Linked DNA regions of Homo sapiens: regions 1 and 3 are each linked to region 2. Evidence: fine-mapped expression QTL. A gene starts in region 2. Each other region holds a variant in brackets. All regions are shown on one strand. Distances are between the middles of the regions. Region 1 has its middle 23 kb from the start of POLR1D. Region 2 holds the start of POLR1D (RNA polymerase I and III subunit D). Region 3 has its middle 45 kb from the start of POLR1D.

Region 1 (8,184 bases), 23 kb before region 2:
CATGTAGCTAAGCCATCCACTCAATGGTTTATCAGGTCCATGTTTTATTTTGCTTGATTTTTAGGTATTATCTTTTCCATTTTAATTTTTGTCTTGGAATTTAGGTGAACTATGTGCATGGTTCTAAATGTCAAAATTACAAAATGAGCTATGTTCAGAAGTTTAGCTTCTACTCTTTTCACATTTTTACATTTTACTCTTTTTAATGACCCTCCTTATTCCATTGCAGTACGTTTTTAACTGTAGATATAAATTCCAGAATCAACAAATTCATCAAATGCAAATGGCATCACTAAAGTAGTGCCTAGAAGGGTGTTTTTTTTGGTTTGTTTTGTAGAGATGAAGTCTCACTATGTTGCCCAAGCTATTCTCAAACTCTTGGGCTCAAACAATACTCCCACCTTGGCCTCCCAAAGTGCTGGGATGACAGGCATAAGCCATTGTGCCCAGCCCATATTATTAAGTTTTAACAAGCTCTATTTTGTACATAATCTGCAAAGGTAATCTTTAATTCTACATGGCTGAATTGTCACATAATCAAAATGCTTACAGTTAAAATTAATTTCCTAAAATAAATTTTAATTTACTAAGGACTATAAGTAAACTAGAAATTCTTAAACAATGAACACCAACATAATATTACTCTTGCACAGGTGACTTTGCGCACAGTAGTATCTAAATACCTCTTGGAGACTTGTGAACTAAAGGGACAATGAACCTATACTGCGTATCCTCCATAGGCGCCTGCTGCCCATTTCTTCATGTTATTAGAGTTTCTCAACATTCAGTTCTCAGCAGTGTCTTACTCTACACTTGTCTCTGAGAGATTTCCTCTGCTTCCATGGTTTCCCATTTCCTCTATATGCTAAAGATTTACATATTTATATCTCCAGCTAAGAATTTTTTCTTAAGTTTTAAGGAAGATTACTCAAAGAACTTACCAACCCATGGGTCCCATTGTTTCAGCTCTAGTTTTCCCACGTTTTGCCTCCTTAAGCAGTTCTTCTATTGCTTTCCTGATAAGAAAAAGGAAAAGATTTGAGAGGCAGTCACCCTACTAAGTTCTGAAAATCAATTCATTCCAGGTCCATGATCTTGGGAAAGGAACTAACTTTTGAAGCATGATTGCTGGGGCAAATTTTTTTTTAAATGGTTGACAATTTTGAACACATAAATTAAAAAGAAACTATTAATATAAAGAGAAGCAACATTGAAGAGAAAAAAATTACAAACTGGAAAAATATTTTTGATATGAGACAGTTAAATCATATATCCTTAATATAAGAATTATCTTTTCTTATTAATTTGAATAACCAAAAGACATGAACAGCCAAATATGTATATATCTATATTTTTTCAAATTCACTGTTATTCAAAGAAATACCAGTGAACTCAACAAGGATAAATGTTTCTGCCCATTAGTTAGTGAGGGGGTAGAGAAATGGATAACTTCTTCTCTACTAATGGGGACTGAAGCTGATATTACATTTCTGGAGGACAATCCAGCAACATAATAAAGAACCTTAAGAATAGTATATACCAGTTGATCTAAAAATTTTTTACTTTGTCCTATGAAAATATTCAAATAAGTATGGAAAAGTATATGTACAAGGATATTCAAACTACTTGTTAACAATTAAAGAAAAAACAGAAAACTTAAATATTTACTGATAAAGGATTGGTTAAATAAATCATAACATATCCACATATGTGGAAGATTAGGCAGTCATTAAAAATGAAGACAAATGAATTTTTGGCACAGGACACTCATAACATATTCAGTATATAAAGCTGGTACAAAAGAATATGTGTAGAATAACCTTAATTTCAAATTTATTTACATATATATTACATAGAAAAACATTTGGAGACGGCTAGGTGTGGTGGCTTATGCCTGTAATCCCAGTACTTTGGGAGGGTGAGGTGAGAGGATCACCTGAAGCCAGGAGTTTGAGACCAGCCTGGGCAACATAGCAAGACCTGGTCTCTAAAAAAAATAAAAATAATAATAATAAAAAAATTTGGAGGGATGTTATCAAAACAGTAAGATGAGTTTTAAGGTGATTTTTTCTGTTTGCATTGCTGCATTTTCTATTTTTTCTACAATGAACATGTATTATTTGTGTAATTTTTGAAGAGGTTAAAAAAACAGAAAACATATTTATCAACCATATTCTGAGACTTTACTATGTGTAAGATACTGTGCAAGGTGCTATGGGTAGCAACATAGGAAGATGATCGTCCCTGACTTGAATATGATGTATCAATAACAAAGTTAAGAAAAAATAAAGTTAAGAAAAAGAGAGGTATAAACAAATATAGTCCAAAACAAATATAGTCCAAAGACAGAACTATAAATCTAATCATGAATTTTTGAAGCTGGATAATTATATAGAGTCTATATTAAAATGTTATGACACTATTATAATGCTACCATATACTATATAATCTTCAAATGATATTAACATTCTGTTTACAAGAATGTTTTATTTCATGTTGATTTTTATCAAAGTAAAGCATGCACATAGTTTAAAAAGACAAATATTATTTAAAAGATTTTAAATACAACAGTCTTCTAAATTATCCTGCCCTACCCACCAAAGAAAACAATTTCAACTTTTTTCATCTGTTTCTCGTTATTTACCTCCATATTCCTAATACTATGCTTTCAAACTATTTCACCACCTCTTAATCTTCAAAAATACATCTGCTTATTTTTGTGTAACTCATTTTAAAATAAACTCTTATTGAGATCTTTAAAAGATGTCTTTTCAGTTAACTCAGCAGCTTGACATTTTCTGATCCTTCTTGGGAAGGCCCACTGCTACAGATCAATGAAAAACTAAAGCGCTTGCCTATCTACTGACATGTTGACTCCCTCAATCACAAGTTTCGCAGCCCAACCTCTTATGGAATCACAAAGAGGTAAGTTCATCTGATGACCACATATGCTGCTTCTTCCAGCTCTTTAGAATAATGATATGGCCTGCTGAAATGATCTGGGGACTTTGTCTCTTACAGTTCAAGCAAAATTTATCCTAATAAGGTCCAAAACAGATTGTTTTTCACCCTTATAGATTTAAGTAAAAAAATTAAAGGGTATAAATATTCCAAATATGCCTCTTCCTTTCCCATAAATTAGTGTGGTAGTTTTAAAATAAAAAGATAAATCATACCTAGATCCACCTATGTGCTCTCCTTCTGTCAAAAGAAATGGTTAAAAATAATCAGGAAAACAACTTTTTGGGGCAGTTCCCCAATTATGAACAAAATATGTATCAGTTACAAATAAACTAGAATGTGTTTTCCCATAAAAACTATGTTAAAATGTTTGCCTAGCTTTCTGGACCAGACTATAGAAACTTATTTGAGTCAGAATCCAGCTGAAATGCTATACATCTGCAGAAGATACTCAGTAAAGATTCTTGCAGAGACCCTGAAGGCATATTCTAGGTGCTTTCAAGAGCTTGAAGTTTGACAGTGACTCTTCTTTAGTTTCGATTCTACTTAAAACTGTCTCTAGCACTGTTATTAATTTTACCTGGCACGCTTAAGGATGCCTTCTGGTTTACGAGTACAAAGAGAAAAGAAGATATATGTATGAGAAAGACTGCCTGCGGTGAAACAAATTCACCAAGGATGGAGGACCATAAAAGGAGGAGTAGATACTGGGTGGGAGGGCACTCAGTCAGCTTGTCTACCGTGTTCCCACTGGTAAAGGGGGCTTAGCTGCTGTTCACAGCCAAAGTGGTGCAGCGTGACCCATTCCCATGGTTCGGATCTACCCAAGTTAGGTATCTGCAATTGGTTTA[A/G]CAACAACTAATGAAGATATAGAGCTTTAAGTATACCAAGTACTATTCTATATAACCATGATAACATAGTTATTACCACCAATACAGATGTGGAAAGTGATATTCAGAGACATCGACTAACTTGCCCAAAGTAACACTGCTAACGATCAAGGAGAAGGGCAATGAGGAAGAGGAACAAAGCAAACAAAACCCAACCTCTGTTTTTAAGGCTAGGTATCATCTGATCCTTCTATTAGACTATCTCCTCCACAAATATCTGCGCAGCAAATCCTGGAGAAATTGTTTATCATTAAAAGGCAAAAAATAAACTAAATGGGGAAAAAAAAGGCCTAACAGAGTGCCACTACTGCATTCATTCAAAGAGAACTGGGGGATAGGCTGATACTGGAGAGGCGGAAGGAATGAAGGAGGACTGATCACTATTTTGTCCTAAGAATGTTGAGCATTCGCTACTTCCCACCCAAAAGTCTCCTGCATAAGCTCCCTCTACAGAGCTTTACTTCCAAAGAAGAAAACAATTCTTAGCAATCAAGTATCCCAACCTTAAAACACTATAACTACCTTCAAAATTAAGGGGAGAAAGTCAGCAACTTCCCCATTACTGTAGCCTCTGTTGTTTCCTCTAGAAATCTCATTAATGAATTATTGGGTAAGGAAATTATAAATCCAGTTTCTATTCTACATGATCACAGGGGCAAAATAACTTAAATTATCAAAGATTATGAAACATTAACATGCATGAAACAAGATAGTTTTTAATGAGGTGATGAAAGAAGTATAAACTGTAATTAAAATACAGGAAAAGCAAATAGGAGAATATATAAGAACTAAGTATATACAGAACTTGAACAATTAAAAAATTATTCAGACATAAACTTAGTTCTTGGTATGCTAGTTTTTACACTTGGTTCTTTTCAATATCTTGAAGGTTTCTTTGTAAAACTAATTAATTATATTAGAATACTAAGTTCCATGGAGACCCAAGAGAGCTGAGTCATTAAGCAGACGGTTTTCTGGGCACAGGAACAAACCACAATCAATTTTCAATGATCCATGTGTGTATTATCTCCAGCCAATTTTCCATACTAGCACAGCTTCCTCAGGCCTGCCTGTTCACTCCATTAGCCAGCTGGTACATGCTTAAGGAATGTCAACTGATCATAATAGCAGCTTAAATAAAACCCAAGTAGGAATGCAAATCTGGTACAAAATCATCTTAAAATCCAAAGTCAAACAAATTAGTTTTGAGTTATCTGGGTCTGTTTCTTTTTAATCACTTTAATCAACTGAGGGTTAACTGTTCCAGTGTACAGAAGGGGTAGCAAGAAATTGAAGGCAACTGAAATAAAGCACCAGAAATTGAGAGGAAAATTAAATAATAAAGTAGGAAAACAGGAATTTTAAAGGAATAAAATCAGAGAAGCTAAATCTCAAATAACTGCTCAAAAATGATGGAGTCAGCCAGAGGGAACTATAGGCCTCTTCCTGTGATGGTGAAGGAAAGCTAGGAACACAAGGCTGAACGTTAGAAGCTTTCCTCATTTGTGTCTCTCTCAGTCTTTAAAAGTCACCTTTGATCAGCTAGCTGTATAGTACAGTATCTGTCACATGATGGACAGAAAAACAGGTTCAAAAAAGGCAATACATTGCTTAATAAGACTACTCTCTTCTTGATGTGTTCAAACAAGCATGACTTGGTGACAAGAATACAGACTTCTTAGAAAATTGGCAGAAATGAGTACAGCATCATTTGCTGCTGTTGACTGGGAAGTTATCTAAAAGGCCCAACACATTATCAGTGCTGAAGGCAAACATGTTTATACTTGTGGAGTCGTCCACATACGTGTAAAAGAAACCTTACTATGGCAATCTAAATTTCTTCCCATAATGGAATGATAAAGCTTAGAGAGAAAAATGGAACTATCTACTCGATCTTCAGTAAAGTTTTGATGTCAGGTCATTGATTAAAAAAATATAGACAGATGATCAGATCACTCTGAACATCTGCAAACCACTGCTTATAGGTTCACACTGCCAGTAGTAACTAGTGGTTTAGTAGTCATAGGGATCTGTAGAAACCACAGGACAAAGTTTGGGTTCTTTATGACTTAGTGTTTTGACTACAGACACAGGCAAAAATTCAGAAATATCCTTATTTAATTTCAGTAAAATATCAGATTGTCTGGGGTCATGTATCAGCTCTAAAGAAAGGTACAAAAATTCAAATTGTGAAAAGCGTTTTTAAAGACAAGGTAAAACTCAATAGGAACACTGAGGTTATTTGGGAAATGAAAAGACTTATTCACAGACATAAACTAAAGGCACAATAAATTAATCTGCACATTTTGTTAAATTCAGCTAATCTACATTACGCACTTGCTAAATACAAGGTACTGTGATTTATACGGTGAATTAGGCTCTTCCCTGAAGAGGCTATTAGGGCCTGCATATAAAATAAAGAGCCATATATGTACTTTAAAAACAAATACTGGATTATCTAGGAGAATGTGAGGAGGGAGCTCCAATATTCATTTATAAAATAACAAACAGAAAGTCATGAGAAAAGGTGCTGAATTTTTAAGAAGAACTTATGCTGGTAAAAGACTGGAAGGTGATGGAGGAACATGAGTTTGAAAGGAAAATTAATGAGATCCTTTGTTGATTTCATGCCCAACATGAACTAAAGAGATAGATGAAAGTGGTATTTTAAGCAGTGGTGGAAAAATAAGACAAAGATACTGCAGATTGCTTTTTGCAATGATGATAATAATTACTTCACAGGGTTGTTATGAGGATAAAATAAAATATTTGATTTGGATCCAAGTGTTCTGTATTTTATAGGAAGCAGAAGAAATATGATAGCTATTTTTTTACACTCCTAAAGGTCTCGGAACTTGTCTTTTTCAACCTAGTTTTCTCTATGCCTGGCACATACATGGTTAAGTTAAGATCTGGGGAATAAATGGGTTCTGGGTATGTGTGGGACATGATACAAATGCAAGGTTTTAAAAATAAAAATACTGCATCTGTAGACAGAATAGATGATGATGGGTGAGATGGAAGAAGAGGAAAGACAAAGGAGGTGAGAAGAAGATAAAAGAAAAAAATATAGTATGTCACTGGGTAAATAAATGTAATGAAAAAAATGAAGAGCTACAGGTTCCTGAGGGAGCAATCCCCTGTAGTGGCCAAACAAACAGGGGCACAACAGCAACACGTATCCTTAGTGTCATCAAACATTAGGGCAGACTGGGAAACCACAGACACTGACCAAGGACACAGAATGAGGCAGAGCTGGAATATTTCCTGTCAGGATTGAGGACTTTGATCTACTAGGGCTGTCTGAAAATCTCAGCAAGGTTTCAGATCTGGAAAACACTTTTCCCTTCAGTGAGCTACTGATCAGAGATAAATGGCCTTTGTTTAGCTTCCAATATTATTCTTTTGCTTCATTGTATATATATACCTGTTAACATCCTCTGAACTCCATTTCTTAGTGGAGATGCTAATTGTGTTTTGAGATGACAGCGCCTAGTGTTGGAGTGGAGGGTGCCACTACAGAGAGGGTGAGATGTCACAGTGGGGCCACTGGCCTGTCTCTGCAAGGCCTTGCCACACAGATGCTCTGTGGGATAACCACATCTAGGGCCTTGGCTCTGACAGTCCAGAGACATAACATGGCTTAGACACTCCCACCAACTGCCAACACTACATTTGCTGTTACATGCACGGGGGAGCTTTGCCCAGGTTATGCCCTCTGTCCAAATCACTCTCCACTCACAACCTTTACACCAGACACTCAGCTCTCACATTACCTCTCCACCAAGCCTTTCCCGATCTCCCTGTTTGCTCCACATCAATAGATGTAACTGCTCCTTTCTTATAGGCCCACTGAGGGGCACATGAAGTCCCCATACAATATTTCCAAACATGTAAAAGTTATAAAATAAGCTAAAAATATTTAAATATATTTCTTCTTCCTATCTTGACAAATATGCTTTCATCATAACAAAATAAAAAATATTTTCAGCCATTTTTTGAAATGGCTGAATATTTGGATTAATATTAATATTTGGATTAATGGTAATATTTGGATTAATGTGGAAAGACAGAAATATTTCGTATATATTCCATGAAACTTATTTTCTTGCACTGATTTTAATAAAGTCCCTAATTATATTGTTATAATCAAGATTTTCATATAAATTAAAAGTGATTTCATTCCTTGCAAATTATAGGAAAAAGAGCCTTGTAAATACTTTGACTTGGGGCTTATCTAGAAACACCAGATGTGTAGGAATTAATATGGAAGTTTAGCATATGGCCCAATTGCTGTCAAGCAAACGCTAAGAGAGAATTGTGAATTTAGGCA
Region 2 (8,184 bases):
CATCTCCCTAGTCCTTTTTGGACCAACTCAGCTTTCCCTCAGGTCCCTACAGACTTTATGCAGATTCCTTTCACATATACAAGACTCTTGGTTAACCTGCCTGCCCCCTTCTCAGTTTCTTCCCTCCACCCAACTGCCTTCTGCAGGTGTTTTGTATGAACCCGTGAGTTTATGGTCACCCTAAAGACATTCAAGACTGCATTCTACGTGATCAGTCTAAATTCTTTTAGGTGCAATGAAGTTGTGATGTGGTGAGCGGTCGCCTCTGGCTGTGTTTCCCACTGTACTTCATCTACTATCATCAGTCTGTACCTTGATGTCCACTAATTAAACTTTGTTTTCATCTCCTGACAGGCCTTGGTTTAGAGGAATTAAACTCCAGGTAAGTAATTCTGTTTACTATCCCCACAGGCAAAGTTTTGGGAGAGGAAAAAAGTTTTTAATCCTTTTCCACATCCTTTTTGAGCTTCCTTTTATCTTCAAAGGCTAATGCCCTTAAACAAACATTGACTTTCCAGAATTTCTTACTGTCACCATAAGAGAATATGCTGTATCCTTGCCCTATGACATCCCTGCTCCCGCCTAAACTCACCTCTTCCAATGTCTTCATGTGATTCTTTTATTGGAAAACCAAACTAAGCCATTCCTCTGTATAATGAGTGGTAATGTTTACTCTTCTTAGGCAGTAAACTAATGCTGTTACTGCCTAGTGACCTCCACGTTAACTCCAGGTGACATTTTTCTATTCCCTATTTGAAACCCTTGGCTTCCACACCCTATTTTTGCACTTTCCTACCATTACATTGACCCAAACTTACAAATACTCTTATCTTTAACTCTTCTTTGACCCAAACTTTAAATACTGAAGTTGCCTAGGGCTTTGTTCTGGGCCCACTTCTTTGTCACCCTCTATTTTTTTTTTTTTAATCAATTTATGTCATCTTTATGGCAAGGACTCATAAAATTTGTCTCCAGCTTAGATCTCTTCCACGATCTCCAACTCACATAGCCACTGCTTACAATGTTCACAAATGAAACTTTTGACTCCTATCATCTTTTCCACCTCCCAATCTATTTTCCATTTTAAGCTTCCCAATTTCAGTAATTGGCCCCAAAGCTAGGCAGTAGTCATCTTTGATTCTTCATCTTCCACAGTTCCTGAAGTGTACCAATTCTGTGCCAATTCAATTCTAAAATATACCTCAAACCTACCTTCTCTTCTCCATCACTAGCTTCTACCCTTCCAGGCCACTTCAACTCTTTATAGTGTCTCTCTCTGCTTCTACTCCAGCCTCCCTATAATTCATCTCCCCCCACTCTGTAATCAAAGTAAAGAAGACGTCATTCCCACTGAACCTAAAATCCAAAATCCCTACTACCCCAACTCTTCCTCCCATGGACTCCAGAGGACAGGCCCTTCTCCTTGTCTACTGTGCTACAAAAACATGCAAATCTTTGTTCAATATCTTCAGTTCCTCATGCCACCAGTTTTCTGCTTTAGGACCTTTGCACATGCTATACCCCCAGAATGCATTTTCTCTCCTCTTTGCACAGCCAGCTCTCTCCCTTCCTGTAATCTCTAGAACACCTTTCCTAACTTCCGTGCCTAAAGTAGATTCCTTTCTTATGTTTTCTATCTTGACCCTACATTTGCTGCTTTTACAGAATTACAAGTTTTTAATTTTATATATTTTTTTGAGACAAGGTCTCCCTCTGTCACCCAGGCTGGAGTGCAATGGTGTGATCATGGCTCATTGCAGCCTCAACCTCCTAGGTTCAAGATATCCTCTCGCCTCAGCTTCCCAAGCAGCTGGGACTACAGGCATGTGTCACCATGCCTGGCTACCTTTTTTATTTTTTTGTAGAGACAGGGACTCCCCATGTTGCCCAGGCTTGTCTCAAACTCCTGGGCTCAAGTGATCCTCCCACCTTGGCTTCCCAGGTGTGAGCCACCATGCCGAGCCTCACAATTTTTTTTTAAGGGGCTCTTATAACACATGCTTTATGAGAACAGGACTTACTCTGTCTCATCCACTATAGCTATATATCTATCCCCAAGGCCTGGAACATACTAGTGCTCAAAAATATGGATATCTCTTTAAAGAATTTGGCTGAGTGTAGGAAATGTAGGCTCTATGGCACGCTAGTGTAAGAGGTCAGGTTTGAGTGACTGAAAAGCTGCATGCCATAACTACTTACATGAATTCATAGAGTATTTACTAAGTGTCCACTACCTGTCAGGTGTTCCAGGTACCAGAATCATGTTGACCTCCAAGTTGGTTTAGTGGGTAAACAAGATAAGCACTACCAATAGCATAGTAAATGCCAAGGCCAGGAAACACAGGGTGTAATGAAAGCACAAAGAAGTACCCAAACTAGGCTGAGAGGCCTGACACATAAGCTTTGACTTAAGAGTACGGCAGGAGTAAGACTGGCCCAGGAAGAGGGGATAGATAAACAAGGGCCCAAAGCACAGAGCACTGGCGGGTGGGATATGTGTTTTCCAAAACAGTCATTTCCCCTATATGGAATTTTCCTTCTCCTTGGCTTTACCTTCTCTCAAATAGGGCTTCTTCTACATTACCCTAGGCTATACCTACTTAAGGACTGAAAATGTTTTCTAGTCATCCCAATTTTCTCCTTCTGTAATATAATCAAAACATCTTACCTTACTTAGATCATGACTAAGTATATCCCAAAATTCAAGCAGTAAACTGGTATCTTTCCTGTAAATGCCTCAAAGATGGAGCCTTACTCCCTAAAACTCTCATGTAAAACCAGAATTCTCACACTTCTTCCAAATTATTCCCACCCTTGCCAAGTCTACCAATCACAGCAAATGATGCAATTCTTTAAAAGCCAAAAAGTTTAGCAAGAAGCCAAGTCCCCACCCCAATCTTCTTTCCTTCTGTTTTTAAACAACAATCTAACTGGGGTCATGGTTTTTGTCTCTTCCCTTACCCCCACCACTCCAACTACAGACATGGATATATACTTCTTTTAATTCCCATGATCACAGTTCTTGTCTAGGCCTCTGATATTCTCAGTTTCCTCATTTTCAATGCTGGCTTAATTAGAAAAAAAGTCATCCTCAAGGACCATTTGGTTGCATGGAACAGAAACCAGTCAAACTAGTTTAAATAAAAGAGGGAATTTATTAGAAGAATACAGAGGTTCTTGCAGAGATTCCAACAGCTGCAAGGGGTCAACAGCTAGAATCACGCCTTTCTGAAGGACAGAGTATGCTGTAACCACAAACTTCTAATTCTGGGTTCTGCACCATCAGGAAGAGAATATCCTACAGGACAGTTCTCCTTGTATACTGCATAAAGGACTAGAATGTGGATTCATTTCTGCTTGCTTTTTGATCCTTATAGTCCTTTATGCTGGCCTCAAACTTGTCAAGCACATGTTGGCAGACATTCATGAGCTCATTCAGGCCTCTCTGAAATGGCTCAACAGCTGGAAGGGTACCTCGAGTCTGAATGCGTAAATTAATTTTGCTCTCTGAAGGATGGGTCGTAGTGTAACCACAAAATTCCACTTCCGGGTTCTTCATGATCATGTAACGTAGAGAATTTCCTAGGGTATGGTCTTCCTCGTGCAATACAAATGTCACACAGTGTCTATCTGTTCCAGCTGCCTGGACCATTTCCAGGGCTGTCTTCCTCTCGCCTTCAGCCATTGAGGTCTTCAATCCAGATATTTTTCTACACACATATTTTTTATAAAAATGAGATCATACTGAATATTGTTTTGTAACTAGCTTTTTCTCATTTACTATATCACATTGCAACACATTATTATTAATCTACTCCAGCTACACAGAATTATTCGCCTCTCATTTTCCTGCCTCCACAAACTCTATCAATAAATATTTAATTTATTGCCTCCAGTTTTTCCCTGCTCCATTTGACCATCCACACTGGCCACAAGGGGAGTTTTCTTAGAAAAACACAAACTTAAGTGTTTGCAAAAATATTTTTTGGTAGAGTCACAAGCAAGGGATAGGATTAGAATAGGACTGGTCCTGCTAGAGGATGAAGAGAGGGTTGAAAGGCATAGAAATCCCGATTGCTCTAGTATAAAAATAGAGGATACAGATGATCAATGTGCAGGCCCAACTACGGCTTCCATTTTGCAAGAGAAGGAAACTAGGAGAATGGAAGGTTCAGGAGTCAAGCAGCAGGGAGAAAAAGAGCTCAGCGCACAGAGTGGCTTTAGGAGCAGTCTGCACATAGAAAGAAGGTGAGCCGTAGTTACAGGGACAGAGGCACGAGTACCGTCCTCAGGAGCAGAGGCCCGGGGCGTGATTTTTACACACTGCTGTTGTAACGGGGGTGGGCAGTTCGGATACTTAACTCTGGTCTCCCAACTTGTCTTCCCTCCTTGATAGCTAGTGTACCTCTCAGCCTCTCAACTGAAACACATTCATGTCTCCTCCCCACTTCTCTCTCCATGCTTCTTCTCTGCGCCCCGAGTCAGGCCCCGGCTGCCAGGCCAGGCAGCGTGCCCCTCGGCCACCCGCTCCCCTTGGGCGCGGCCCGCTCCGCCCGCCTCCTCCTCGGCCGTTACCTCTCCAGCTCCTGATCCTCTTCCATCGCTGGGGCGGTTTCTGGATCCTCAGGTGGTGCTGGCGGATCGGGGGCTCTGTCCCATAGCGCGAGGCGCGGAGGCGAAGCAGGAAGCAAGGACCGACCGACGGAAGGCGCGGAGGACGGAAGGAGGGAGGAGGAGCCGCAGCGGCGCGGCAGGGCCCAGCCGCGGGGCGGGGCATGAGGCTCCACCCCCAGCCCCCGCCCCGACGCGGGGTGAGCGGTGGCTCGCGGCCCCGCGGCTCACCTGGGCGACCACGCGAGGCCACTCGCGGCGGGAGGGGCAGGGGGCGGGGCCAGCGCCGCCTTACCCCGAGGCCCAGACAGGCCTGCGGGCGCCCCGGCTCAACTCTGGTACCTTTCCCCAGGTGATGGCGAAGGGGCGCGGCCTTACCTGCCGCCCCCAAATCACTTCCCTTCCCAGTGGCAAGTCCGAAAGCGGCCCGACTTCCCAACTGGGGCGGTGTTGACCCAGGATGGCCCTTCCTGGGACCCCGGCCCTCCCGGGCCTTTTGTGGGACGACAGGCTTAAACTGTAGTCGGTCAACACACCTTGAAGAGGGAGGGGGGTCACGTGCGAGATGAGTCACCACAGAATACGAAGGTTGAAGGCGGTATTTGTTTCACCGGGGAGCTTGCAGTTGCATTTTCAACTGGGTCAAAATAGGGCAAGAAAGAAATGTCTCTTTTGGGGGAGTGAGAGTTTGGGAGAAAACTGTTTCCCACCTTATCCTTTCCGTCCTAGGATTCCTTCTACCCCCAGAGCGCGTCCTCTCCGGCTGTAGACTTCCTTTTCCCTTTCTCCCCAGTGGCTCCTCAAACCTCCTCACCTGCGGAACCCGCCCTCACCTTTGTTCCCAGGCGCCCAGCCCCCGCCTCGGCAACCTTTCGCCGCCCAGGCTCGCTCTCCATCCAGCTCCCTGCGTCCCGGCCTTCGCTGTGCTCCCTCAGGTGCGCTTCCTCTCGAATCGGCCCTTCTTGTCCCCTCGCCGCTGGCCCCGACCCTGCCCGACTCCAGCTGTCCAGCGCAACTACGTTTCTGCTTCCCTGCGCCACCTGTTCTCCTGGCCTCCCCCCACCCCGCCCCGCGATTCCTCTGGATGTTCACTCCTTCCCCAGCTGTGCCACTCTTGGCGGCGGCCGGGGGTGCGCGCAGACACCTAGCCAGCGGGGCTTCCGCAGGGGAATCAGGCGGGCGGCGGGGACAGCCCGGGGCGAGTGGGGGAGGCGGGCGGCGAGGGCGGAGTGGTCTCACTCTAACCCGGGAGTGACGGGTCCCTTCTGGCCCGCCTCCCGAGCTCTCGGATAGGTGGAGCCGCCCTCTGGTCCGCCCACCTCCCGCCCTGTGCTACCTCCGATTGGCCCGGGTGCGGGTTGGGCCGCTCGGCCTTGGCGCTGCCCCCGGGAAGGCAGCAGGGGCGGTTGAGAAGTGAAGTCTTGGCCGGAGTTTGCTTTTTGCCAGGAAATCCGCGGCGGCGGCGGCGGCGGCGGCGATTCCTGGCGGAGCGGAGCCGGGCAGGCTCTCCGCTCCCTCAGCGGGCCGCGGAGAGCGGGAGCTGGTGCCGAGCAGCGGCGCCAGGAGCCCGTGCGCGGCCCGGGCAGCCGCGCTTTCCCAGTGAGTAACTTTGCCCTGCCCGCCTCGCTGCGCGCCCTCTCGCTGGCTGCGGGCAGCCGCCTCAGGTGCGGGCGTCAGCTGGGTGTGGGTCAGCGCCGCGCCCCGGGAGGCGGCCGGAGCGGCGCCACAGCTCGCCCCGGAGCCTTGGTCCTTCGCGGCTGTCTTCGCTCGCCCGGGCTGCGGGGCTGGCGTGGACTCGGGTGTGGGTCTGGTCCAGGAGGGAGAGTCGGCGCCCGGTGCCCGCCGCCTGCAGGCGCCCGGGAGGCGGGCGGCCTCCGGCTGTTAGCGTTTGCTGGTTCCGGCCACCGTGGTGCAGAGCTTGGCGTCGTTTGCTTCTTAAGGGAAGGGAGAGGTGGGGTGAGTGTTTAAATTTCCTCTGTGTGTGTGTGGTGTCGGCAATGAGAGTGGCACTAGCTGCCTTTATCGGGTTTTGTTCTCTGGAAAGGGATGGGGAGAGATCATTCCCTCCGCCCCAGCCTGTTGCCTGTGAATTCTCACCTTTCTCTTTAGGCTGGAGAGGGTGGGAGAGAGATTTGACATCTTCCAGGGGGTAATTTAAAAATATGAATCTTGATTTGGAAGCAGTTGCACACAAAGCATCATTCAGGAAATACATCACTCGCTTTTCAAAGCTGTATGCCACGTTTTAAACAAGGACTTTTGACTCATGTAGTGTTTCTTTTAGTATTTCAGTTTACGTTAAGTTTATGAATCCAGACGTTCGTTTGTACCAGGAGCTAAAGTACACTTATGCATGGGCTTTGCTGTGTATATTATGCTTTTTAAAATCACAGAAATCAGAAACAAAGTTGAGTGAAAAGCGGTGGCGGTGCAGGAGGAGGAACACTTGTGAGCTCCAGCTTATTGGAACTGCCTTTAAGAATTTCACATTCTTGCGGCAATAGTACTTACTTGTAAATTGGCCTTCTTCCCAGGACAGGTTTTGATATTTCTTTTGCATGTACTTCGATGCAGCACTAATGAAGTTGGATCTCAGTAGATCAATTTTATTTACTTTGCTAGATTTGATTCCCACCCCCACACCTCTTTAGAAAATGGACTTTGGCAGGTAAAGAAGGAAGCGGGAATCTGGTATCCTTTTTGGCTTGTCAAAGCTTTGTTGAGCCATGAATAACAAAGTTTTGGCTTTTTAGCTTGTCCGAGTCCCACATGTGAGTTTTCCCATGGGGTAAAAGTAGGCCAAATGAGAACCAAAGTAGAATAACATCACTTTTAATTCGGCCCACTTGTGTGTTACATTCTCCATATATCTTGTTTCTCTCATCAACTTTGAAATTTTTTCATTATTTATTCATTTAGCCACTGATAAAGTACCTACTGCATGCCAGCCATTGATGGCGGGGGTTGCTTCTTGCCCAGTTTTCTCATTTGGAAACTGATCCATGCCTTTATCCCACTAGTTACCCTGAAGTAATTTGAACTTAGGGAGCATTTCTGCCTGGAGACCTGTAAGAATAGGTGTTACGTAGGCACTTAGTCTTCAGATTGGTTTGGGATTTCGTACATTGTAGGCACGTAGCACGCAGGCCACTTAAAAATAAATGTATGTGTCTTTGGGCTGTTGTATTACGAGCTTTGCATATGGGCTTGTCTGGCCGAAGGACCCAGTGTCCGAGGTGGAGGTAGTAGTCAGGGACATGTATTATTCATTTCAGAACACTTGGCACCTTTTCTTGCTTACATTGGGCACTAAAATATTTACTGAATTGACTTGAACAGAAAAATGAAGGATTTTTTATACCAGATTAAGAAATTTGGACTTTATCCAGTCAGTGATACTGAGCTGCTAATTTTAAGCAGGAGAATGTCATGATAACGGGTAAGCATTCCAGAAAGATATCTGCAGCGTCTGGAGGATGGTGGGCTTCCAGATGGGCGATATGGAGACTAAGTTGGAGGCTGTTCTAATGGAGGGGTTAAGTGCTCAGGGATTCTCTATTCAGATTACCTGGG
Region 3 (8,184 bases), 44 kb before region 2:
ATTTTGGAAACGGGGTTAAATTGTCCAGGTCTGGGCCCAGCATGTGCTTGTCATAATCTCCTGATTCTCTAAGTGTTCACTGAGTGAGAGAATGAATGAGTACACCAATGGTCTGTTCTTCATGCAGGATGTGGGATTAAAAATAAGTCTTGTGGAGTTTTCTTTGTAAATTGGTACTGAGCTTTGAAAGGAGTATTTAGCAGACTGATGAGTGTAATTTGGAGTAGATAGGGGCTTATAATTGGACAGTATATACTAGTTCAACTTGAGGGAGCTACCACTGAGGAATTAATAAGAAAAAACAATCCAGGAAGGACAAGGGACCACCACTTAGGGCAGGCTATACATTTATGTGGAGGAGAAATGTCTCCCTCAGGTGTTTCATATGATGTGTTATATCTGGTATTTGTTTCACATAGAGAGTATTTATAAGTTATCGAAACCAAAGGTGAATATTACAGGACTATATGGATGGGAGAAATAGTTCATCTTTCATCTTACTATTAATGATGCTCCAAAATCCATGTTTATTATTGGCCTTTTCATGGTAATGTTCATTGAGATTTATAACATGGGTTACCAAATAAAAATGTATAAGTTGCCTTTGAATTCTGCCTTCAGTGTTGCCTTGCCAGTTTAATGGGGATTAATTTACTTTCCTCTTTATGTGTTCCTGTGTGTAAAAGGGCATGCTTCCTGGGCATCTTTTCCATGTTGAGAACAAGAGTTTCCACTTGGCAAACTAACCTTCTCAGTATCTAGACTCAGAAGAGCCATGGGTGAGGCTCAATTTATGATCTGCTGACATGGCTTTCCAAGAGATAGTTTCTCAAATTCCTTGGATTATAGAATGTTTTCTATGGTATCAAAGAGGCCGCGTCCCAAGGATTTCTTTACTCCCAAATCTCACTATTCTTATGGATGGAGAAAAAAAAATTCAAACATGGAAGATCTAGAATACTGGCTTCACCTGAGGTTTTAGTTTTCCATAGCTATATTCCATTAGCTGCCATTTAACCATTTCACAAGAGTTGTGAGAGTTTTTCTCTTGGATTCAGATCGCTGTCTACACTGGCCCTTGGGAAACAGTTCCCCATACAAATGTTCTTTGCTGGGGCTTCCATGTTCTGATCTATGGGAGTAGATTTTGGCTTGCAAAATGCAGTGATTATAAAAGTTCTTTAGGTTCTTAAATTGGGAAGACATGGAGCATATACACCTTGAGACGACCCTCCCGTCCTGTGTTTTGAGGGAGCCGAGTTTGGATTAAGTTTGGCATAGGGTACAGGAAAGAGTATGGGTTTTTGATTCAGAGAGTCTTGGCTTCAGCTAGCATTTCTGCCACTTCCTAGTTCTGTGATTTTGGGCAAAGTTTTTAATCTATCCTCAGTTTCCCTTATTTGTAAAATGAAGGTGAGTAGCATCTTCTTCATAGGGTTGTGGGATAACTACCTGAACACAGGTAAAAGATATAACAGTGTTTGGCCACAGGTGATAGACAATCACTGTTACTGTCCACACAGTTCCAATACAGCCTACAAACACCTCATAGGGAGAATATTTATGGGTTTCCTAGATTCAGCTCCTCTGGGGAGGGGAGTCCTCTATACTGGATCCCAGGACACAGAACACTCCTTAGGAAAGTGATGAGGCTTCATTTCATCAGGAACCCACCTCATATAATGTCTATTAAATAGGCACTGCTTATCCACCAGATACTCTTTATGATTCTAAGGTGATGGCATGACCTCTACGAATGACGAATATGTAACTAATTGTAAAAATATGGGCTGGGTGTTGTGGCTCACGCCTGTAATCCCAGCACTTTGGGAGGCCGAGGTGGGCAGATCACCTGAGGTCAGGAGTTCAAGACCAGCCTGGCCAATATGGTGAAACCCCGTCTCTACTAAAAATACAAAATTAGCCAGGTGGCACATGCCTTGTAGTCCCAGCTACCCGGGAGGCTGAGGTAGGAGAGTTGCTTGATCCTGGGAGGCAGAGGTTGCAGTGAGCTGAGATCGTGCCTTTGCACTCCAGCCTGGGCAACAGAGCGAGACTCCATCTCAAAAAATAAATAAATATGTAAGTGCCATGCTAAGTCACTTGAATAATCAGTGAAAGAATAAATGCTACCCCAAAGCATTTTTTATGCTTTGAAGCAGATGTGCCAATGTGCCCCCTGCCCCCCTGCCAACCTCTCAGCAAAAAAGAAGTCCACAGGGAAATTCAAAACTCCACAGCCATCTTCCAGAATCAGCTCTGAGGAAATGTCCTTTAGTGCTTAGCCTGCTGAGCCCTAAAGTAAAACCCACTGAGATTTATAACATGTGTTTCCAAATAAAAATTTATAAACTGCCTACTCAGAGGGACCTACCCTAAGTCCCTCCCCCTTCATAAATGGGCGATTCAGAAAGACTAGCCACCAATAGGTGACCAGATATGGCTAGGAACCATAGCTTTTTGCTTATATTTCTTACAGGCTGTTTTCTAACATGAGATAAAACAAAAAATTATGTCAAGTTGCATTTGTGTTTAAGTCTTAATGGTTTCTAGTGGAAGCATGGAACGCAGTTCCTAAAATTTAGGGCTATTTGCACTTCTTTCTTTACCTATTGAAAGTTAAAGACTCACTCCAAACATCTTAGTTTGCAGATGAAAAAATGCAGTCCAGAAAAGTGACCCAGATAAGGCCTGAAGCTAGCCAGAAGCAGAGGCAGGACTAAGATTCAGTTTCTCTAACCTCTATCCCAGGCTTTGTGATCTCTAAATATAGTTACAATGGAGATCAGATAGTAACACAGGCGGATGGGAGCTCTTGGCAGCGCCAGTATGTTAACCACAGAAACAGGAGGTGGCTGGTGAATGTATCTCATGACCAATCCCTCCCCTAACATCTACTGTATACATAGGGAATAAAAAATAGATAATTTTCTCTTGACATTTTTAGACTGGAAATTATGGCTGCTCTTGATAGAAGCCTAAAGATTCCAATAAACTTTTCTGAAATAGAACAGTGCTTTTAAAAGGGAAAATGGTTTTGTAGGCCACTGTCGTTTAACACAACTTAAGAAAGGTAAGTATAGTTAGGCTAAAAAGCTTCCCTTAATTTTGAGTACAAAAATGTGTTCATTTCAGTCATTCCCTTTTAAAGGATAATGAACTTGTCTGTGTGTTATAAATACAGAATGCAAGGCTGGGTGCAGTGGCCCACGCCTGTAATCCCAGCACTTTGGCAGGCCGAGGCGGGCAGATCACCGGAGCTCAGGAGTTCGAAACCAGCCTGGGCAACGTGGCGAAACCCTCTCTCTACTAAAAATACAAAAATGAGCTGCACATGTTGGCGCACACCTGCAATCCCAGCTACTCAGGAGGCTGAGGCAGGAGAATCGCTTGAACCCAGGAGGCGGAGGTTGCAGTGGGCCGAGATACGTGCCATCACACTACAGCCTGGGGGAAAAGAGCGAGACTCCTTCTCAAACAAAATAAATGAATAAATAATGAATAAATACAGAATGCATACACAAATGACACAATTCAGCTTTATTTTTACTTAATTATAACAATTTTTAAAAACTCCATGACTTTGTGCTATTTCTAATATTTAAATAAAAAACATTTCAAATTTTGCACAAATAATTTAGGCCAATACATAACTAGATTTGAATAAAGTCAGATGAAGCAATAATTCCTCCTCTGTGTTTGAAAGGAATGAGTGTGGTTACAAAGTCACAGGATGAGTCCCTGGGATCTGGGGTGGGAGAAGGGGTGGATCAAGAATGACTTGGGCTTGTCACTCCCTAGCAGGCTGAGGGCGTGACACAGCAGCTCGGTGGCGGAGAGGTCTATTCTAGTTTCTAACACTCCAATGCTAACTTTTTGGATGTATTTCCTTCTAGCATGTAGAAAGGGCTTTTCTTGGCTGCCAGGAAGTAGGGAGCAGGGATGTGGCATGGTGATGATCTGAGGACAGCCAGGCATATGCTCAGACACTTTGGAAAACTGGGGAGGGGGAACAGGGAGACAGAATCTTCATCTTCTTCCTTTTGTGAACTGGGGAGGAGGGTGCTTGGTGACATTTTCCTGAGTATAAAGAAGGAATACAGGTTTGAAAGGTTTGTAATTGTATATGAAAACAGGTATTGAAAACCAATACTGGGGGAAAAAAGGCATTGTAAACACTTCTATTTAAAATGAAGATTTCTGGAACAACTATACTATATAGTGGTATCACAAGTCTTTAGCTGG[T/C]AAGATCTAGCACTGAAACAACTCTTAATTTTTAACTTGTGAGGGTTCTTTTTAAAGCACCACTTAAGACCTATATATTAAAAAAATTAAATATAGAAAGATTGTTCTATCTAATAAATGAGTTTGAGAATGCACAGGAAACAACAAAACCCATTTTTAACCTCTGGTAACTGAAGTGGAGCATTAAATTCAAAGCCACTTTGAGGATTTCCTACATTGTTCACCTAAGGGAAAACAAATGCAGAGCTATCAAAGAGCTTCTCGATAAATTCCCAGACCTTGGAGGGCTACAGCTTTTCATAAATATGGTCACTGGACTGATGATTTCTAAATTTTAAATGTAATACCCCCAAAAAGTAAAATATAGGATTTATAAGTATTTTATTTTTCTGAGAAATGACCAAAAAATTGGAACCAGTTTTAACAATCTCTGAAAACTTTAAATTCTAGACATGTTTATTTTGAAACACACTTCCAAACAAGATAAACAACAATATGTAAGTCTACTACACTGCAGAAGTAGCTTAAACTTGCCAAGACATCCTCCTTTGCACTTGTTTCCTCAAGAGTTGCTAGGTCATTTTTTTTGCCTGTGGCCAGCAGCCTCTTTAAAAACAACAAAGGACCTAATGTCAAAGTCACTCTCAGGTGTTTGCCCTGCCAGCTCAGGCCTTCTCCGCACACCGCACCCCGAAGGAGCACGGAGGCCCGCAGGGCTGGCTGGCCCTGGTTCCAGCCTCACCGCCGGTTGGACCGCTTTTCGTACTTGTCCTGGCTGCTCCGCTTTCGTGGCGGGGAGTAACTGGCGGAACCTCGAGCGCGGAAGCTGTGCTTGTAAGGATGGCTTCTGTGTTTCTTCGGGTTTTCTTCTTTCTGGGCCTGGCTCTTCGCTGGTTCCTTATCGCCCTCTTTTTGTTCATGGTCTTGCTCTTTATGAGAGGGCAATGTGTTTTTAATTGTGTTAATTAGAAATCTTTTATTGGTGCTAGCAAGAGGACACTTCATCCTGGGGTGGGGAGGAGAAAAGAAAAACCATCACAAATCAAATGGTTAACTCCAAAGCTGGACCCACTATCGTGATTAGTACCAAAGAATCCTGCTCCCACAGAATCGAGTTTCTGAATTTGTTAGCTTTCCTTGCATGCCACCTAGTGTAAACTCTGAGTACCAGGGAGGAAAAAAAAAGACGATTGGAATTCTTGAGACAAGACTGGCTGGAACACTTTAAACCTTTCTTCCTTCCTGGGACTAAATTTCCTACTGAAGTTCATATGTACAGGTATTGACCACACTGTGAACTAACAGAATCATTTAATATTTTCTTTCAAACTAGTAAGTGCCCTATTTTACTGTAACTTATTTTGGATTAAATTTATTGCATCTTGCGTTTTATTACCAGACAGTGAAAACTGTTCCTTTCCAAGGAAACTAAAAAGTATATTCTGCTGTATATTAAATACAGGAGCTAAAGGATCTACTATAGAATAAAAAAATTGTGTAAAGAATCCATAAATATGCAATAATCTTTTACTTAAAAAAATTCTTACACTTCTATTTCAGGATGCCAGGCTATGCTCTGTGGAGGAGCACTTTACTCAATCTCCTGCCCTGGTGAATTTCTGTGCAGGATATATTTCAGTACCTTCATGATTCAAGTTTACCTAGGAGAGGCTGCAACCAATCAAATTGCTAATTAATGTGCTTAGATCTACTTATATACTATGTATTATCTTTTTCAGGTGTTAATAAATCTTTCATTTTCAAAAAGATGACCCTATACAAATGAGAACGTTCATATTTCTCTTAGCCTTGAGGTGTCTGCCATATGATGGGCTACTTTAGGAGTATGCTGATTCTCAAAATCATGTTATTCAGGGTGGCTGGTATTAAACAAAAACGAATGTAGAATAGCCACATTTCTATAAAACTTTGATTTACAGAGAACCCCAAACAATACTTCAAAATCAAGCCAACAACACTCCACATAGGAATTGTGTGGACTAGTACTGTACAGGTGAAGTATAAGCAGTCAGGCATTAGCATAGCCTCACTCACAGAGGTCAGACCATCTCAGAAAACCAAAATGGCACTGAATCTGGAAGTAAAAGGAAGAAAAACAAGAAAATACCTCCTGCTGCAAATAGGTAGCTCTTGAGCCTACAAGGACAGAGAAAATATCTGAGAAAAATGGTCAGGCCAGAAAAGTGACAAAGGAATGAACTAGAACAAGGAGAAACTTAGAAAAGGACAGTGGAAAATTAGAAAATTTAAGAAAAGGACAGTGGAGTGCAACAGAAATAGTGGGAACATTCAGAGGTGGTGACAGCTCTGGAGTTTAGAAGCCACAGTGAATGAGACGAAGGGCAAAGAAGAAAGGCAAAAACAAAGAAAAAACAGTTCTGCAAGTACGAACTATAGAGCTTCACAGAGCTTCCAGAAAAGGTACACCAGCATTACGCTGCCTTAGTAGTCTCAAGGTAAAGACATTTCTACCTCCTGGGGGCACGCTGGCATTAGGACATTCCTGTGCGGGAAGACAGGCACGTGATGAGAGGCAAGCCGAGTTCTCCTGCAGGGTCTGACAGGGTACTACTGAATGCAGGCGTTGCTTTGGTGAAGACACTTGACCCACTGCAGTTGCAAACTCAGCAATGATTCAGAACAGTATTAAACACTGGCATGTTCCAAAACAGCATAACACAGACAGCCTACAGGAAAAACTACCCTCCATCACAGAGAGTAAAAAGCTTAGAGGGCCTGTCTTTGGCAATGGTGGCCTGGTGCTTACTACAAGAGCAAAATCTTTTTTATAGACAAATGAACTACATATGTCTCTTGGATATATAGGGCTAGGAGTAGCTGGTGAAACATGTCCAGCAACAGAAGAATTCTGGGGTCTTTTCACTGAAGTGGGCCATCTCAGTGGTGGTAAACTGGCCAGTTCTTCTCTGCATTAAACAACAAGGAAGGGTACTTTTCCCAGACGTGATGGTAATCCAGGATCTCAGAACAAAACCTTTGGTAACTACTGGTGAATTCCACTCTATTTTGCTGTTTTCAATGTCAGATCATCTTTAAAACCAAATGCTTCCTCGAGGTGAGCAAAGCCCTGCTACTAACTGCAGCATTCACGCCAAGAGGCAGAGGGGACTGCACCTATCTTCCAACTGCTAGTGTAACCCACTGACTCAACATAGTGACCCAAAGAGTTAGCCAGAGAATGAGATGGTTTTATAGAATAATTCCACAAGAAAACTGGCATTTACATCTCTTTTAACATCAGAGATGCAGTTTTTTAATGTTGGTTATGCCTGGGATTCTATTCTAGGTAAATAGCCAAGGGTGGCCTGAGGAGATCTTGGTTTACTGGGGTGGGGTGGAGGTGGGGTTTGAAAGTCAGACATCTCCCAGGCATGCCAGTACACATTTTAGAAGTGATGACAAGTGCTCATTCACACTCTACTAATAAATAGGGCAGGGCAATGAGATACAGTAGTTGCAAGCAGATGTGAAGGTACATATAGTAAATCATTTTATATAAAGAAATTCCAAAATCTGCACAGAATAGATCCAAGTCTAAGGACGGCAACATCAAAACCAATGTCTGAGGGAATCAGTGGGGAGAGCTTCTCTGGCCTTTAAGGTAGAAATTAATTTTGCTGAATCTCACAGTTGGTTGTTTCATTGCTAAGAAATCACACTACATGAGACAGTGGCTGGGCACACATGCTCTGGAATCACACTAACAGACTGGACTTTGGGCATGTTATGTAATCTCCCTGCTGCCTCTTAGCTGTTAAGTGGGGATAATAATGGCGACTATCTTAAAGGGTTGCATGCAGATCAAATGAATTAGAACATGTAAAGTACTCAGAACAATGCCTGACACATAAAGGCATTTGGTTAATTTCAGTTTTGGTTCACAGCCTACTATTTAAT

What was found. PIP is the estimated chance that this variant, and not a neighbour inherited with it, causes the effect.
Region 1: its variant is fine-mapped to the expression of POLR1D in whole blood (INTERVAL, PIP 0.94).
Region 3: its variant is fine-mapped to the expression of POLR1D in fibroblasts (GTEx, PIP above 0.99). The same link has a PIP of 0.9 or more in esophagus mucosa.

Annotation. Positions count from the first base shown.
Region 1 is chr13:27,641,211-27,649,394 of GRCh38, reverse strand. It overlaps a transcript of POLR1D not described here. Among named protein-coding and RNA genes, the nearest start is that of POLR1D, 23 kb to the right of the region's middle. The variant A/G (reference allele first, on the strand shown) is at 3,813.
Region 2 is chr13:27,618,401-27,626,584 of GRCh38, reverse strand. POLR1D (RNA polymerase I and III subunit D) reads right to left here and starts at 4,693. Exons shown (of 2, transcript NM_015972.4): 1 at 4,576-4,693; 2 at 3,136-3,710. The coding sequence starts at 4,601. The coding sequence ends at 3,335. LNX2 (ligand of numb-protein X 2) reads left to right here and starts at 6,056. Exons shown (of 10, transcript NM_153371.4): 1 at 6,056-6,210. RefSeq lists silencers at 4,437-4,996, 5,617-6,506 and an enhancer at 5,300-6,028.
Region 3 is chr13:27,662,753-27,670,936 of GRCh38, reverse strand. It overlaps a transcript of POLR1D not described here. Among named protein-coding and RNA genes, the nearest start is that of POLR1D, 45 kb to the right of the region's middle. The variant T/C (reference allele first, on the strand shown) is at 4,246.